Homo sapiens: one gene and its partners. The protein of the gene in region 1 interacts with the protein of each later gene in a pairwise test. Each region holds a gene or a part of one and is shown in the gene's direction. Other genes may lie near its edges.

The links. Proteins that work in one complex are often made in the same cells at the same time.
Region 2: the proteins of ECSIT (region 1) and PI4K2A interact in a two-hybrid assay, tested with the Homo sapiens proteins (one study listed by BioGRID).
Region 3: the proteins of ECSIT (region 1) and PAXIP1 interact in a two-hybrid assay, tested with the Homo sapiens proteins (one study listed by BioGRID and IntAct).
Region 4: the proteins of ECSIT (region 1) and LOXL4 interact in a two-hybrid assay, tested with the Homo sapiens proteins (one study listed by BioGRID and IntAct).

The regions. Positions count from the first base shown.
Region 1 is NC_000019.10:11,508,038-11,513,034, reverse strand, and holds part of ECSIT (evolutionarily conserved signaling intermediate in Toll pathway, mitochondrial isoform 1 precursor), read left to right. Parts: intron 1-4,986; coding exon 4,987-4,997.
Region 2 is NC_000010.11:97,654,171-97,658,491, forward strand, and holds part of PI4K2A (phosphatidylinositol 4-kinase type 2-alpha), read left to right. Parts: intron 1-2,114; coding exon 2,115-2,246; intron 2,247-2,650; coding exon 2,651-2,804; intron 2,805-4,321. UniProt on the Homo sapiens protein: Membrane-bound phosphatidylinositol-4 kinase (PI4-kinase) that catalyzes the phosphorylation of phosphatidylinositol (PI) to phosphatidylinositol 4-phosphate (PI4P), a lipid that plays important roles in endocytosis, Golgi function, protein sorting and membrane trafficking and is required for prolonged survival of neurons.
Region 3 is NC_000007.14:154,971,304-154,975,624, reverse strand, and holds part of PAXIP1 (PAX-interacting protein 1), read left to right. Parts: intron 1-719; exon of another isoform or gene 720-4,321.
Region 4 is NC_000010.11:98,253,874-98,258,194, reverse strand, and holds part of LOXL4 (lysyl oxidase homolog 4 precursor), read left to right. Parts: intron 1-27; coding exon of another isoform or gene 28-30; coding exon 31-214; intron 215-390; coding exon 391-545; intron 546-1,247; coding exon 1,248-1,415; intron 1,416-2,455; coding exon 2,456-2,618; intron 2,619-4,321. UniProt on the Homo sapiens protein: Catalyzes the oxidative deamination of lysine and hydroxylysine residues in collagen and elastin, resulting in the formation of covalent cross-linkages, and the stabilization of collagen and elastin fibers.

The DNA.
Region 1 (4,997 bases):
GTCAGCTGCCACCCCAGGCCAGGCTCCCGCCATTCCTCCCCTGGGCTCCCCTTCTCTCACTCTAGTGATTGTGGTGAATCAAGTTCTTTTTTGAGACAGGGTCTTGCTCTGTTGCCCAGGCTGGAGTGTGGTGGCACTATCTCGGCTCACTGCAGCCTCTGCCTCCCAGGCTCAAGCGATCTTTCCACCTCAGCCTCCTGAGTAGCTGGGACTCCAGTCACACACCACTATGCCTGGCTAATTAAAAAAACTGTTTTTTTTTTTCAGAGACAGGGTCTCACTATATTGCCCAGGCTGGCCTTGAACTCCTGGGCTCAAGCAATCCTCCTGCCTCGGCCTCCCAAAGTGCTGGGATTACAGGCATGAGGCACTGTGCCTGGCCGTGAATTGAGTTCTGATTCTCTGGCTGAGTCCCCTGGTAGGTTCCCATGGTCCTTACTGCTAGCACAGCTTGAGTGACCTCTGCTTCAGTCCGTTCAGGCTGCTCTAACAAAATCTCTTAGCTTGGGTCATTGATGAACAACAAAAATTTATTGCTCACAGTTCTAGAGGCTGGGAAGTCCAAGATCAAGGTGCCACCAGATCTAGGTCTGGTGAGGGTTTGCTCTCTGCTTCAAAGATGACACCTTGCTGTGTCCTCACATAATATAAGGGGCAAACAAGCCCCTCAGACCTCTTCATATTTTTTTTGAGACAAGGTCTGGCTCTGTTGCCCAGGCTGGAGCGCAGTAGCACTATCTTGGCTCACGGCAAATTCCACCTCCCAGGCTGAAGCCATCCTTTCACCTCAGCCTCCCAAGTAGCTGGGACTACAGTCGTACACCACCACGCCCGGCTAATTTTTGTATTTCTTGTAGAAATGGGGTTCCACCATGTTGCCCAGGCTGGTCTCAAACTCGTGAGCTCAAGCGATCCACCCACCTTAGCCTCCCAAAGTACTGGGATTGCAAGCATGAGCCACCATGCCTGGCCCCCTCAGACCTTTGTTTGTTTGTTTTTTTTTTGAGATGGAGTCTCGCTCTGTCGCCAGGCTGGAGTGCTGTGGCGCCATCTCAGCTCACTGCAACTCTGACTCCCGGGTTCAAGCGATTCTCCTGCCTCAGCCTCCCAAGTAGCTGGGATTACAGGCATGCACCACCAGGCCCAGCTAATTTTTGTATTTTTAGTAGAAACGGGGTTTTACCATGTTGGCCAGGCTGGTCTTGATCTCCTGACCTCATGATCTGCCCACCTCGGCCTCCCAAAGTGCTGGGATTACACGCGTGAGCCACTGTGCCCGGCCAAGACCTTTTTTATAAGGGGACTAATCTCATTCATGAAGGCAGAGCCCTTATGATCTAAGTGCCTCTCCTCTCAAAGGCCTGACCTCTTAATCCTATTGCATTGTAGATAGATTGCAACATATGAATTTCAGGGGGCCATAAACATTCAGACCATAGCACCCTCCCATCCTTCTCCCAACACTTGCTACATTCTAGGCATCTTCCTTATTTTCTGTGCCAATTCTCACCACAGGGCTTTGCGTTCTCTGTTCCTTCTGCCAGGAACACTGTTCCCCATGGACTTCATGTTATTCCGGTCTCAGCTCCACTGTTCCTAATCAGGATGCCCTTCCTGACCTCCCTGGCCAAGGCACCACCCCTTCACCGTGCTTGGCTTGGTTCCTCATTCACCATGACTCAGTCTCCCTCCTGTCTCCCAAGGCTGAGCACAGGATTTGGTGCAAAGCTGACACTTGGCAGTGGTTTGTTGAATGACTGAGTGGAGTAACACCCTCAACTCAGTGTCCTGGGAGCCCCCACTCATGCCAGATCACACAAGGGATCCAAAGAGAGCCCCTCACAGCACTTGTCATGTGGTCCTGGACAGATAACAGTTTCCTTAAGAGCCAGTGGTTCTGAGATGGAGAAGCCCGGGGTGCTGTGGGAGCCGAGTGGGCAGGTGGGGCTTCCTGGGGGAGGTAAGGAGAGCAGAGGACGCTGGGCAGAGGGAGCAGTGTGTACCAGGAAATGCGGTGCAGTGAGTGGGGGCACCTGATTAAAGAGCTTGATCTCAAACCTCTTGGTTGGTGGGGAGAGCTATGCCGGGGGTGGGGGGGCAGAGATTTAAGAAGAAGGAATCGGGTTGGAATCATGTTTCTGGAAGAATCTGCAATTGGAAACGTGTCTCCTGGCAGCCGTGTGGATGCTGTTGGATGGGGAGAGGGGCTAGGGGACCAGGGTCGTGGGTCCAGGTGAGAGATGGCTTGAGACCAGCAGCAGAATGTGGGGGGGAGGGTTGTTTTTAGTTCATTTCTTCATTTTGCAAAGCAATGCACTAAAAAGCCAAACAGCATGTAAAAGCACACAGTGACGAGTCCTCTGCTTCTACCCAGGCCCCGTGCGCTGCCCCTGACGCCGCCCGTCTCCCTCCCCAGAGGTGACTATTTCCATGTCTCCTTCCAGAGAGGTTCTATACATTTGCAAGCAGATCTCTCTCTCTCTCTCTCTTTTTTTTTTTGGCATCTGTATCCTTTGTATTTAAATATCCTTCTCCCCCGTCTTATGGAGTAAAATACAGCCAGGCACAGTGGCTCATGCCTGTAATCCCAGCACTTTGGGAGGCTGAGGCAGATGGATTGCTTGAGCCCAGGAGTTCGAGACCAGCCTGGGCAACATGGCAAGACCCCATCTCTACCAAAAAAATACGAAAATTAGCTGGGAGTGGTGGTGCACACCTGTAGCCCCAGCTACTCAGGAGGCTGAGGCAGGAGGGTGGCTTGAACTCAGGAAGTCAAGTCTGTAGTGAGCCGTGATCATACCACTGCACACCAGACTGGGTGACAGAGCAAGATCCTGTCTGTTTAAAAAAAAGAAGTTCTTTAGCCAGGCATGGTGGCTTACGCCTGTAATCCCAGCACTTTGGAAGGCCGAGGCAGGCAGATCACCAGAGGTTGGGAGTTCGAGACCAGCCTGACCAACATGGAGAAACCTCGTCTCTACTAAAAATACAAAAAGAATTATCCAGGCATGGTGGTGCATGCCTGTAATCCTAGCTACTTGCGAGGGTGAGGCAGGAGAATCACTTGAACCCAGGAGGTGGAGGTTGCAGTGAGCCGAGATCGCGCCATTGCACTCCAGCCTGGGCAACAAGAGCGAAACTCCATCTCAAAAAAAAAAAAGTTTCTTTAGTAGCAGGGCATTATATACATGTACCTTGCCTTTTACAAATTTCATTTAATACAACTAGAAGTCACTGATCCATCTCAAATTTTTTTGTTGTTTTTTTGAGACAGAGCCTTGCTCTGTCGCCCATGCTGGAGTGCAGTGGCACAATCTCGGCTCACTACAACCTCCTCCTCCCAGGTTCAAGCAATTCTTGTGCCTCAGCCTCCCATGTAGCAGGGACTACAGGCGTGTGCCACCACGCCTGGCTAATTTTTGTATTTCTAGTAGAGACGGGGTTTCACCATGTTGGCCAGGCTGGTCTTGAACTCCTGGCCTCAAGTGATCCACCACCCTCGGCCTCCCAAAGTGCTGGGATTACAGGCATGAGCCACTGCGCCCGGCCTGCTCATCTCAATTTTTTTTAACTTGAAAGGATGAATGATATATGTTCTAATAGCTGTCCACTGTTTTGTTTCAAAAGCAAGTGCATTTTGTTAAAAAAAAAAAAACTTTGTCAGCGGGGCGCAGTGGCTTATGCCTGTAATCCCAATGCTTTGGGAGGCTGAGGCAGGTGGATCACCTGAGGTTGGGAGTTTGAGACCAGCCTGACCAACATGGAGAAACCCTGTCTCTACTAAAAATACAGACATTAGCCAGACGTGGTGGTGCATGCCTGTAATCCCAGCTACTCGGGAGGCTGAGGCAGCAGAATCACTTGAACCCAGGAGGTGGAGGTTGCGGTGAGCTGAGATCAAGCCCCATTGCACTCCAGCCTAGGCAACAAGAGCGAAACTCTGTCCCAAAAAAAAAAAAAAAAAATTGTCTAGTGTTTTTGAATTATGTTCAAGGTATAAAATTTTAAAAGATAAAAAAGGTATTCCTTCCCACCCTGTCCTCCACAGAGGTGAAAGCTATCATTTGCTTCTAGTGTCTCCTTCCTGGGATATTCTGTATATGTGAAGTTATTTTTCTTTTTTTAATTCACAAGCACTGAGCACTTATTATTTGCCAGGGACTGTGCTACATATTTTACAACCACCCAAAGTTAGGTTCATGCCCATAATCCTAGTGCTTTGGGAGGCCAAGGCAGGCGGATCACCTGAGGCCAGGAATTTGAGACCAGCCAGGCCAACATAGCAAAACCCTATCTCTACTAAAAATACAAAAAATTAGCCGGGCATGGTGGCAGGCGCCTGTAGTCCCAGCTACTTGGGAGGCCGACGCAGGAGAATCGCTTGAACCCAGGAGGCGGAGGCTATAGTGAGCCGAGATCATGCCATTGCACTCCAGCCTGGGTAATGAGCAAAACTCCATTTCAAAAATTAAAAAAATAAAATTAGCCAGGCATAGTGGTGTGCACCTGTAGACCCAGCTACTTGGGAGACTGAGGTAGGAAGATCACTTGAGCCCAGGAGTTCAAGGCTACAGTGAGCTATGATCATGCCACCATTCTCCAGCATGGATGACAGAGAGGGAGACCCCCATCCCTAAAAAAAAAAAAAAAATCGGAATTAAGTGCTGTTATCATCCCTATTGTGCATCTGGAGAAACTGAGGCACACAGGTACAGTGACTTGGCCAAGGTCACACAGCTTGTGACAGAGCCAGGATTTTGACAAAGGTGGGCTGGTTCTAGGGTAGTTCCCTCAGGGTGAGCATCCTAAAGATTGGTGGTTATTGCCAAATGGGACAGAGGGAGGAGGGGACAGGTTGGAGGGCCGTGTACCAGATCCAGGAGAGGTGTCCTGAATTCCCTGGTATCCCCCTTTCTGTTTCTCTGTCCCCAGTTCCTCTGTAGGGGATTGGGGGTTACAAGATTATATCCCTACTCTCCCTTGCAGGTTCCTTTGCC
Region 2 (4,321 bases), on another chromosome or scaffold:
TATGATAGTTTCATTAGTCATGGGGAAAAAGTGGTTTGTTAGGAAGAATGATAGAAAATAAATATGATGGGGGCAAAAGGGGATTTATGGCTTGAGAGAGCCAGGAGTTTCACTGTGGACACTGGCAAGGTAGCCTTAGGAAAGCTCTTTTTCCTTCATTCCTATGCCTGAGTTTTCTGATTTGTAAGGCAGGGAGTGCCTACTACAGTACCATGCACATCCATTTTAGGTAGTCTATTAATACTAGATGGTAGCATGGAGCGATAGATGAGAGGCAGTTATTTTGCCTCTCAGGTTCATGGGAAAAAAAATAGTTATTTGTAATAAATTTTACAAGGCTTAGGAAAATACCTTTCTTATAAGTTTGATTTTAGGTATTTATATGCTAAAACTCACTTGTTGCTGTCTCTGAAAGAAGCTTGTAACTCATTCTTCATTCACTTAATAAATATTTAATGAGCATATGCCAGCTACTGTGTTAGGTGCTGTGGATGCTAATATAAATAAGATGTTCTCCGCTTCCTCAAATCTCATTCATTTTAAAGGAGGAGTTAGATATACAAATGGATAATTACAAGACAATGTGATAAGTGTGACAATAGATGCATATGTGGATTACAATTACGTCACTGCAATTTGACTTAAGTATAATATTGATGGCTCATAAAAATTTTTTTTAGAATAAGTAATGCATGCATCTAGTATAAAAATCAGAAGGCACATAGGGTAAACAGAGAAAAGTAATTCAGACTCCCTGCTACCCCTATCTCCTGGCCATTCAGTTTCCTTCCTCAGAGGCAGCCAGGATTACAGTGTATAGCCTATACATAAAAATAGCAGTTAATTAAAATGAAAACCAATTTTAATGTTTGTGTTTTGAATACGAATAATTTCACAAAGTAAAAAAATTCAAAAGGGCCCGGGCACAGTGGCTCATGCCTGTAATCCCAGCACTTTGGGAGGCCGAGGTAGGAGGATCACCTGAGGTCAGGAGATCAAGACCAGCCTGGCCAACATGGTGAAACCCTCTCTCTACTAAAAATACAAAAATTAGCCAGGAGTGGTGGCACACACCTGTAATCCCAGCTACTTGGGAGGCTGAGGCATGAGAATTGCTTGAATGCGGGACTTGGAGGTTGCAGTGAGCCGAGACTGTGCCACTGCACTCCAGCCTGGGCAACAGAGTGAGACTCTGTCTCAAAAAAAAAAAAAAAAAAAAATTTTTTTTCAAAAGGAAATGAAGGGGTACAGAGTAAATTGCAACTTGTTTGTCTCTGGAAAGAAGATGGGCATTTGGCCTAATCTAACCCAGGAGATGACAGTGTTAATCCTTGTACTTCATACTAGCTGCTGTAACAACCCTTAAATCTAAGTGGTTTAATACAATTGGATTGTATTTCTTTTTTATCATATTTTTTTTGGGACAGAGTCTCCCTCTGTCACCCAGGATAGAATGTGCAGTGGTGCGATCTTGGCTCACTGCAACCTCTGCCTCCAAGGTTCAAGCCATCCTCCCACCTCAGCCTCCGAAGTATCTAGGATTACAGACGTGCACCACCATGCCTGGCTAATTTTTGTATTTTTAGTAGAGACGGGGTTTAACCATGTTGGCCAGGCTGGTCTCGAACTCCTGACCTCAAGTGATCTGCCCACCTCGGCCTCTCAGAGTGCTGGGTTTACAGGTGTGAGCCACCACGCCTGGCCAGGAGTGTATTTCTTGATTACATCTCAGACTCATGCCAGATAGGCAGCTCTCCTAGATACCACATCACTCATGTAGTTACAAGGTATCCGAGGTTCTTCCATGGTGTGGCTCTGCTATTTCCCAGCCCTTCTTTCCTAGCTGCACAGACTGGAGAATGTGAATTAAGGATTGTGGGAGATTTTAGTTGCCAGCAGTGGAAGTGTTGTACATACATAATTTTGTCATTATTTCATTGGCCCAAACTAGTTATCTTCCCTCTCCTAGTTGCTGGGAAGGCTGAGAAATGTATTCTTTCTGTGCCCTGGAAGAGGAATAGGATTTGTGAACATCAAGCTATTTATTCTCTGCCATAGTCTTCTGGTTCCTTAAACTTGACTCTAACCTTAGTATCTCTTCTCTTTCACTGTAGGTAGTATACCTGGCCAGTGAGACCTTCAACTATAGTGCCATTGACCGAGTGAAGTCCAGGGGCAAGCGGCTTGCACTAGAGAAAGTGCCAAAAGTTGGACAGCGGTTTAACCGCATCGGGCTACCACCAAAGGTATAGACGCACCTCTGGCTTATCAAGGGTCATGATTTATAGTGACATAGTCATCCAAGTGGTGAAGCAAGGTGCCTACAACTCAAATATGGGCACGTGAATAACCTGCCCTGAGGATCCTGTCTTCCTTATTTCTGTCAAGTGGCTAAGGTTTGAAAAGTTGAGACCTAACTTTTCACTTTACTCCTCTGGTTCATTTGGATAGGTTCTTTAATTTGGATGGATGATCACTGTTACATCTCTTTTCTCCTGTACTTGCAAGAAATGAGGAAGTAAAGATCTTGAAAAGTTTTCCTTCTCTGATACAAACTCCATAGGGCCTTAATGGGTATCTGGCATATACTCCAAAGGTCTTTGGATTTGGGCAGTAGGGAAAAACCTTTGTTCCTTCCTCTTGGTTCCAGGTTGGTTCATTCCAGCTCTTTGTTGAAGGCTACAAAGATGCAGACTATTGGCTGCGGCGTTTTGAAGCAGAACCTCTTCCTGAGAACACTAACCGGCAACTACTGCTCCAGTTTGAGCGGTTGGTGGTGCTGGATTACATCATCCGCAACACTGGTGAGCAGCTGCAGGTGGTCCCATGCCCTGTGCCAGACTGTGTTGAGGCATGGGGAGGCCTGGAGGCTTGCAGGGCTTGGGAGTCAGAGTACCTTGTCCAGACACATCATGTGTAGTTTTCAGAAGTGGTGAGGCCTGGAGTTAGTATTTGCATTTTATCTTACACTCTTTCCTGGTTCCAGACAGAAGACACTTAACTCTTCCAAAGCACTGTGAAGAGTACTCTTATCCTTGATCCCTAGTCATTCTTGTAGCCTCAAGACCTGTAACAGGACAGTTTTGTCTTCCTCTGACTTCTTGAGGTAGATGTTTAGATCATTGATATTTAAAAAAAATTTTTTTTCAGTGCAATTTAAATTCAACTAACCTGGTAAAATGTACATGTATTGAGGACAAAAGTCTTTAAATTCAGGCTGGATGTGGTGGCTCATGCGTGTACTCCCAGCACTTTGGGAGGCCAAGGTGGACAGATCATTTGAGGCCGGGAGTTCCAGACCAGCCTGGACAACATGGTGAAACCCTGTCTCTACTAAAAATACAAAAATTAGCCGGGTGTGGTGGCGGGCACCTGTAGTCCCAGCTATTCAGGAGGCTGAGGTGGGAGAATCGCTTGAACCTGGGAGGCGGAGGTTGCAGTGAGTCAGAATTGCACCACTGCACTCTAACCTGGGTGACAGAGCAAGACTCTGTTTCCAAAAAAAAAAAAAAGTCTCTAAAGTCACCTTATTGGAGCTATATTTTGTCCGATATTTTAATCATAGTAAAATGCATGTAACATAAAATTTATTATCTTAACCATTTTAAAGTAGTATGAAATACATTCATATTGTTGTGCAACTGTCACCACCATCCATCTCCAGAGCTCTTTTTGTTGTTGTTGAGACCGAGTCTTGCTCTGTCACCTAGGCTGGAGTGCAATGGTGCGATCTCAGCTCACTGCAACCCCTGCCTCCTGGGTTCAAGTGATTTTCTCACCTCAGCCTTCTGAGTAGCTGGGATTACAGACACCCGCCATCATGCATGGCTAATTTTTGTGTTTTTATAGAGATGGGGTTTCACCATGTTGGCCAGGCTGGTCTTGAACTGACCTCAGGTGATCCACCCATCTCAGTGTCCCAAAGTGCTGGGATTACAGGTGTGAGCCACCATGCCTGGCCTCCAGAACTCTTTTCATCTTGTAAAACTGAAGCTCTATACTCATTAAACAGTAACTCTTCATTCCCCCTCCCTACGTCCCTGGCAACAATCATTCTGTTTTCTGTTTCTATGATTTTGACTACTCTAAGTACCTCATGTAAGTGGAATAGTACAGTATTTGTCTTTTGGTGATTCGCTTATTCACTTAGCATAACGTTCTCAAGGTACATCTATGATGTAGTATATATCAGAATTTCCTTCCTTTTTAAGGATAAATACTGATCCATTTTATGTATATACCACATTTTGTCTATCCATTTATCTTTCAGTGAACACTTGGGTTGCTTCTGCATTTTAGCTATTACGAACAATGCTACTAT
Region 3 (4,321 bases), on another chromosome or scaffold:
AGTTTATTGGTTTTGCTTTTTCAGACCAAATAACTTACAAGCAGTATTTGTGTGAGAACCTGTTTACTTGTGTGTGTGTGTGTGTGTGTGTGTGTGTGTGTATGTGTATATATGTATATTTCAGGGTCATTGAAAAAGGGTAACAGCGTATTTTAAGTTGAAGATTTAAAGCAGCTGAGTAGAACCAGGATGTCAGTGATGGAGTACTATCCGTTGAAGGGTTTCCACTCTTACTTAGTTTAAAATTAGCAATGGCAGCAAAGAGAATAATGAAGTTTACCAGCTGTACCTGATTTGCTTATAATGAACTTCATGGTAGTAAATAAATAACACAAATTCATGCATTTGTTGAGGAAGGCTTGATTTCAGGTTACAGTTTATATAGCATGGAGCTTATTGATACAGAGTGGATCTTAAGTTTTGTTGCTGGTTGTTTTTTGTTTTGTTTTTGTTTTTTTTTTTTTTTTTGAGATGGAGTCTCACTCTGTCGCCCAGGCTGGAGTGCAGTTGCATGATCTCTGCGCACTGCAACCTCCACCTCCCGGGTTCAAATGATTCTCCTGCCTCAGCCTCCCGAGTAGCTGGAATCACAGGCATGTGCCACCATGCCTGGCTAATTTTTTTTTTTTTTTTTGTATTTTTAGTAGAGACAGAGTTTCACCATGTTGGCCAGCCTGGTTTTGAACTCTTGATCTCTAGTGATCCACCCACCTCGGCCTCCCAGAATGCTGGGATTACAGGTGTGAGCCACCACGCATGGCCTTAAAAGTTTTAAGTACATATATTTCTATTTAAGACAGAAAGAAGGTAGTTGAGGTGGTATATTGGCCACTCTGCATTTTTCTGGGCACTGGAGATAAAATTGTGACTAAGAAAACTAATTTAGGTAGAGAAGACATACAGTAAGTGGAGAAATATGAACAAAAGGACTGTTGATGGTGAAAGGTGTTTCAAAGAAAATAATCAGGGTCCCGTAATAGCAGGTGAAGGGAAGGAGGCTATTTTAGACGAGATGGTCAAGAAGGACCTCGGGCAGGAGGTGACTTAGATCAGGGTTGAATGACAAGGAGAGGCCATGTGAAGAACTGAGGGCACAGAGTTCCCAGGCAAAAGGAAGACCCAAATGGCATGAATTTGCTGAGTTCTAAGAAAAGAAAGTTAATGAAATTTGAACTTCATAAGGTGAATGAGTTCTAGGAAGGATTTAAAAGGGGCCTTGCCATATAGGGCCATAGTGAGGAGTATGGTCTTTCTTGGAAGGAAGCCACTGGGCTTTTGAGTTGGGGTGAGATGCACTCTGTGTAAACAGTGGATCTTTGAGGGGCAAGAGTGAAGCAGAGAGGCCCCTTAAGAGGACATAGAGTTGGAGTTTGAGACAGAAAAAAATGAATGGGAGGATCCAGCTTTCTGGCTTGAGCGAGTGAAGGAAGATGATGCTGTTTCAGAGATAAGGAACACTGGAAAGCTGCAGGTTTGAAGAACCTAAGTTTCTTTTCAGATGTGTTGGGTTGGAGGTATCTGATCCATGCAGGGGCTGTCTGCTACGTGGTGGAACCAGAGAAAACAAGGCTGACTGAAGCTGTGGAGGCGGATGTGAGAATGTGTAGTAGGTGGGGCAGAGCAAGAGGAGGGTCTGGGGCCAGGCTCTGAGGAGCCGCACCATTGAGAGCCAGCTGGGCTGTTCCATCTGATGGTGACACCCCGTCTGCCGCTTCACCTTGTTCTGGACACTTTCATTTCATAATGACAGCTCAAAGTCCCAGAAAAATGGCTCTGTAGCATATAGGAACAACCTGAAGCCGGATCCAGTATTCTCCACATCCACTTTCAGTGGAAAGGCTTGATGTTGATGAAGTGGGGAAATTCAGTATGGCGTAGGTATAAGGTGATGTTGACAATGATCATTTTATTGGGTATGATAATAGCAGTGGTTTACGTAGTGTTTAGAAATGCTGTGGGACAGACAAAATCTTTGTCTCCCCTCCCCTCCACCTAAGCAGCGAGTATTAGTAGTACACGGTTCTTGGGATGATGACAGCGGTTGGCTGGCATCCAGAGTAAGATAGAGGCAAACATGCCCTTTAGATGTTAGACAGCAGACAGTTAAGATGGTGGGGGAGAAGGTGAGCAGAGAGAGAAGGTCATCGGGTTTGAGGAGAATAGAAGATTTTCAAATAGGTGATTCATAGATAGGGAAGACTTTGGGTTTCTGGCTTGAGAGGTGGATGCCTGATAAAATGCCGAGCTGGCCTTCCTCAAGTCCTGGGTGGTGACAGTGCCTTGTAACTGAACAGCAGCTGCCCGTTAGGAGCTCTTGGGCCTGCTTCAGTGCCCACCGCTCCATGTCACCTTGTTGGGTCCCGGAGGAAAACAGGCCTGCCACTGACCATGGGTCTTGGGGGTGGTTGGGAATGTGTGGCTGAGGAAATGGGGAGAAGGCCACCAAGATGAGGAGGTCCAAGAGCTGCAAGGCCAGGGATTGTCCAGGTGGGTGCCCATGAGAGCGCTGGGGTCAGCCGAGTTTAGGGAAAAGGTAGATGCACAGAAGGAGCCAGCTCCAGCACCGCCCAATGCTGAGGGTGCCGGCCCTGGTCCCTGCACATCCGCGTCCAGGCAGGTGGGCGGGATAAAGCCACAGGGCACAGCCTCAGCCACAGAGCAGCAAAGTGACGATCACACAGTCGTCCTGAGAGCCAGAGGATGTCATGACAGGTAGAAAGTAAAGGCCATAAAGAATGACAGGCTAGAGGCAAAGAGGATTCTAGCATTTTTGACCTCAGTCATGAGAAGAGTGATGATACTGCTGAGGTGGAGGAATTGAGAAGGTGACCCAGTCCTGGCAGGAAGACTGCGGCCACGCAGTGGACCTGTCCTGTCAGCAGTGGGATATGCGAGATATGGGCCGTAAAGATCTCTCTCATAGGGTTGGTGTGAGAAATCATGGATTAAGCCTCTGGCACTTCGAGAAATGGCTACTTTCTCACTTTCTTTAGGTGAGAAATTATGGACAGAAGTCATCCATTTGAAATAGGAAATTTTCTTTGCTTTTCATTTATCTGTGGTGTCAAAAAGTGTTGGTCAGTTACTGCTGGTTAGTTACTACTTATTTCTAATATATATGTTTTGGTTGTTTTTTGAGACAGAGTCTCACTCTGTTGCCCAGGCTGGAGTGCAGTGGTGGGATTTCTGCTCACTGCAAACTGCACCTCCCTGGTTTAGGCGATTCTCTTGCCTCAGCCTCCTGAGTAGCTGGGATTACAGGTGCCCATTACCACGCCCGGCTAATGTTTGTTCATTTTTATTAGAGACGGGTTTTTGCCATGTTGGCCAGGCTGGTCTCGAACTCCTGACTTCAGGTGATCTGCCTACCTCGGCCTCCCAAAGTGCTGGGATTATAGGTGTGAGCCACCGTGCCTGGCCTTATTATGTTTTTCAAATACAATGGATGTTGGTTTAAATATAAAGTTCCTTAAGTTTGTATTTGGATATAGAGACAAAATAATTTACTTTGAAATGGAAAGAATTGACTGCAGTAGGGAGTTTGGGCACATCTCTGCACTGGAAATTGTCCTTAGGAGACAAATTTGATATACTCAGCTGTGTGCTCTAGCGGTGGAAAACTGAGAAGGCTCCATCCATTTCTAGTGAGTGAATGGATTTGATCACTAGTGAGAAGAATTGCGGAGATTTTCTGAGAGACTTTCAGCAATGCAAGAGAACATAAGGACGTTTTACTTCTAGATGTGAAGAAAATGACTGAAACTTTAGAAATATGAGACAGATTTAGTTGAACATTAGATTGTTGGGGGGAGTGTAACTTACCATCAAAATCCTGTTTAAATTGCAAATTTATAGTGGTTAGAAGCCATGTGATGTGTATCATACTGCTTTCTATATATGGCATTCAGTAACTCAGTATTAATGTAAATGAGGATTATGACAGTTGTGATGGAAAAATTTAAACTTGACATTCATTCAGAATTGTTTGTAGTATAGCACAATTACGTAATTGAGCAATTAAGATTCTTTTTCTTACGTTCTCCAGGACTAACATGTTTCCAGCCAGAGGCAGATCAGATGGTTGAAAAAGTGATCGGATGAATGTGGTAGGGGTTTTGGGAGGCATCTCGATGGCTGGCCTTGCAGATTTCTCCTCTCCATCCAGGCCTGCACCTCTCGCTTCCTCAAGTGGAGAAGGTTCCAGGCCAACGGCCATCTTCATTCCTAGCCGGGACTCTTGTCCTGAATCTCCATCTGTTCTTCTCCCTTAATGGGGTGGGTCAGCAGTGGATGAAGACCCATCTTAACTCAAGCCCGTAGT
Region 4 (4,321 bases), on another chromosome or scaffold:
GCCGTCCCTGAAGCAGGTTTCTCCCAGCAGGAGCCGAGGGTGCGCCTGCGCTCCGGGGCCCAGGTGGGCGAGGGCCGGGTGGAAGTGCTCATGAACCGCCAGTGGGGCACGGTCTGTGACCACAGGTGGAACCTCATCTCTGCCAGTGTCGTGTGTCGTCAGCTGGGCTTTGGCTCTGCTCGGGAGGCCCTCTTTGGGGCCCGGCTGGGCCAAGGTGAGTGAGACAGCCTGGGAGGGGTTAGAAGGCCTGGATATGCCACTGGTCCATGTCTTGAAGGCCCTGGGGTGACAGGGCCAGGACAGAAAGTTATCCCCCTCTGTGAAGGGGAAGCCACAAGTGTGGGGTTACGGAGATGGAGCCTCGCACACAGCACCTCTCTCCCCATCTAGGGCTAGGGCCCATCCACCTGAGTGAGGTGCGCTGCAGGGGATATGAGCGGACCCTCAGCGACTGCCCTGCCCTGGAAGGGTCCCAGAATGGTTGCCAACATGAGAATGATGCTGCTGTCAGGTGCAATGTCCCTAACATGGGCTTTCAGAATCAGGTGAGTTTGGGTCTGAGCATGGCCTCAGGCTGGGGGCCGGGAAACCCTGGGGAGTCCCCAGGACACCACATCGAGCTAGCGGGGAGAGGTCCAGGAGGAGCGGCTAGCGCTTCTGCTTTGGGCACCAGTCTGCCTTCCCTTAGAGCCGACCTGGCTGCAGCCCCTCCGAAATGTCAGAGGCCACAGGGGCTCTGCAGATGGATGTGCTCTCCCATACCCGTCTCGGGTCCCCTGTGAAGCTGAGAAAGAAGGTGCCTGGGAAAGAGGGCCACAGGGCTGTCGGCACGAGGGAGTCTGTGTGGGATGCTCAGGGCAAAGTGTCAGTGCTAACATGGACTGTGAGCAAGTCACTGGTGCCACTGTAAAATGGGGTTCACGCTCTCAGGGGGTCACTGTGAATGAGGCAAGGGACATGAAAGCCCTTTGCAAATTGCCAGTTGTCGTTAATGGTGGAGGGCAAGTGCCAGAGCAGGAGGAGCCCCTGGTCCAGGCACTTTGAGTCAGATTTCTCTAGCAGGCAGGGACATTAGAGACTACCTGCTACACTGTCCTCACCTTACAGAGAAGGAGACCAAGGCAGAGAAGGGGACTGTCTTGTCTAGGGTGACACAGTGAGCTGGCTTGGGCAGACCTCCAGGCTCGCAGCCCTGAGCTCTTCCCTGCAAGGCTACCCCACTCCTCACACACCCCTCGCCATTGCAGGTGCGCTTGGCTGGTGGGCGTATCCCTGAGGAGGGGCTATTGGAGGTGCAGGTGGAGGTGAACGGGGTCCCACGCTGGGGGAGCGTGTGCAGTGAAAACTGGGGGCTCACCGAAGCCATGGTGGCCTGCCGACAGCTCGGCCTGGGTTTTGCCATCCATGCCTACAAGGTAGGTCCCTCTGTTGTTTCTTCCGTATGACCTCTCACCCTCCTGTTCTGAGGCCCAAAACTTCCTGTGCTAAAGCTGCTGCCTCTTTGCCCATTTGGCAATTCATTACTGAGTGAAACTATGAGCCGACATGATGCTGAGTGCTGGGAACAGTGTGGTAAACAAGAAGACATAGTCCTAATGAAATCGTCAATGAGGGACACATTTGCATCTGCAGGAAAGATGAATAGAAATTAGTCAGACAAGGTGGAGGAGGAATGAATAGCTTATGCAAAAGCCCTGTGGCCAGAGAAAGCTTGATTCAGCTGAGGAAATCAGGGCCAGGGATTGTAGTGTGGCTCTCTCTCGAGAGTGCTGTCAAACATGAGGGCAGAGGAGGCAGGGGCAAGATCACTCAAAGCTTGCAATCCACATGTTTGAAAGATTTCTTCCTTTGCTGTTTGGAAAACGTTGGGTGGAGATTAACATGAATGCAAGGAAACACACTCAGGAGGCTATTGTAGTAGCCCAGGTGAGAAATGAGGCTGGACTGGACCAGGTAGTCCAGGAGAAATAAGTGGATAGATCTAAAATACATCAAAAAATAAAATCAAGAGGACTTAGGCATGACCGCAACAGAGAAACCTCTGCACTTGCACCCACACTGGCTGCCGCACAGTGTGGACTGGGCAACCCTGAGCACAACTGACGATCTGGGCCGCTTGAGGAGCAGCTGGGGAAATGTGAGCACAGCCCCCAGGGAGAGGGGCGGGGAACAGGACCCTCCTCTGCCATCTGGAAGAGAGAGGGGTGTAGGGCCAGTAGTGGAAGCCACGGTGGGTGGATTTTTACCTCCATATGTGGTGGGGATTTCTAACATCAGAAGGGTCCAAATGTGTCATGGACTGCCCCAGGGAATTCGGGTTCTCATCACTGAAGATTTTCAGGCCCAGGCTGGACACAACCCGGTGGGGGTGGTATGACTGAGGCCACACCTCAGATGGGAGTCAGGAGGTGACTCCAAAGGCACGCTGACTGGGTGACGCTGGCTGTCTTCTTAGGAAACCTGGTTCTGGTCGGGGACGCCAAGGGCCCAGGAGGTGGTGATGAGTGGGGTGCGCTGCTCAGGCACAGAGCTGGCCCTGCAGCAGTGCCAGAGGCACGGGCCGGTGCACTGCTCCCACGGTGGCGGGCGCTTCCTGGCTGGAGTCTCCTGCATGGACAGTGAGTGACGGAGGGCTCACAGGGCTGGGGACAGGTAGGCCTGTGCTCCCCTTCAGGGAGGGCCCTGCATGCTGGTCCCAGGTCTATGGCCAGCAGCATGGGGGAATGAAAGTACCAGCTCTGCCATTTCCCAGCTGTGTGGCCAAATCACCCATCCCATCAGGATCCATACCCTGCCCCCTCACGGAGTTATTGTGAGAAAGAACACTGAGAACATGAGGAAGCACAAGGACACGGAACGGCGGTTTTCAACTTTGGGTTATGACCAACAGTTACAAACAATGAAACAGGACAGAAAACAGCAAGGGCAGTTTTTCCTTGGAACTATGTGTATACTGGGTTACAGCATAAAATGTATTTCTTACTGTGGTTTGTAGTCAGAAAAGCAGTTTGAAAGCTGTCGTAGAGGACATACAAATATGAGCACACCCGGGGCCAAGGCCCAGCTGTGTGTTCTCTTCCTGAGCTGTGGGATTTACCCAAAAAGACTTTGGGACAAGGCCATCTGTGGCATTGCTCTGCCCCACAAACCCAGATTCTTAGGGCAGCAGCATCTCTGACATCTCCCAGCCAGGTCAGTGCCAAGATGGACTATATCCAGCCCAAAGGTTACAGATAGCATCAACCCAAGTGGCCACTTGACCTTGTTCGTGGCCAAATTTCGACACCAAGATATCCTTCATCTTTGTCAGTGAGCTCCTGGCTTCCTCTCTGTCCAGGGCACCCTGGGGAGAACACTGGGCCCATCCATCAGACCCTCCCCTGCAGGGATGGGGCATGAGAGTGGACCTCCCCATCACCAAGGCCTCCCAGCACGTGGGGAGCCTGCTCCTCACTTGACTCCCCTTCCTGGGAACCTCGAACCCCTCCCTGCTCCACTGCCTACAGTGGGAGCGCTCTTCTTGAACACATTTGATCCTTCACGACAACTTGGCACAGTCAGCCAATCTGCAGTCTCTGTAACCACCTGTTTTTCCTCCCTGGCTTTTCACATTGCTTTCTTTCCTTTACTCTCTCTTCTCATTCTCTCTGAAAGCTCGCCTTCTTTCACCAAGAAACTCTAGGTTTGTCAGTGGGCACTTCCTGGCTCTCTCCAATATATACCACAGGACCCTACATGGCCAACTGCCAGATGCAGATGGCTCCAGCCTGGGGCAAGCTGCGGCCGGCCTGCCCAGGTGGCATGCATGCTGTGGTCAGTGGTGTGGCAGGGCCTCACTTCCGCCCAGGACTACTTTAGTGATAGTGATTTTTAGTGACAGTACAGGCAAAGTATCCAGGTTAGGTATCAGCAGAGCTTTTTGAGAGGATTATATGAACTAAGCTACATAAAGGCACTTTACAGGCTTAAAAGCATTTTACAAAATAAATACTAGCTTCAACTGCATGTTTACTTAGGCCAGACATGTTACAGGTGTCATCAGATTAATATCACCATTATCTTCATCTTACAGATGATGAAAATGAGAGACAAAATGGTTAAGCAGTTATAGAGCTAGTGAATTATACAGTCAGAAAGTAAGCCAAGAATGAACCCAGGTGGCCTGGCTCCAAAACCAGCAAGCCTAACCATGACACTGTAGCTGCCTCCCAGGTTAAGGTGATAGACTTCCTTTAAATGTTATTAGAACTCACCATCTCCTGACTCTTAAAACTGCCCTTCTTTTGTGGGGTCCTCTCGGAGGGTTTAATCTGGGGGCAAG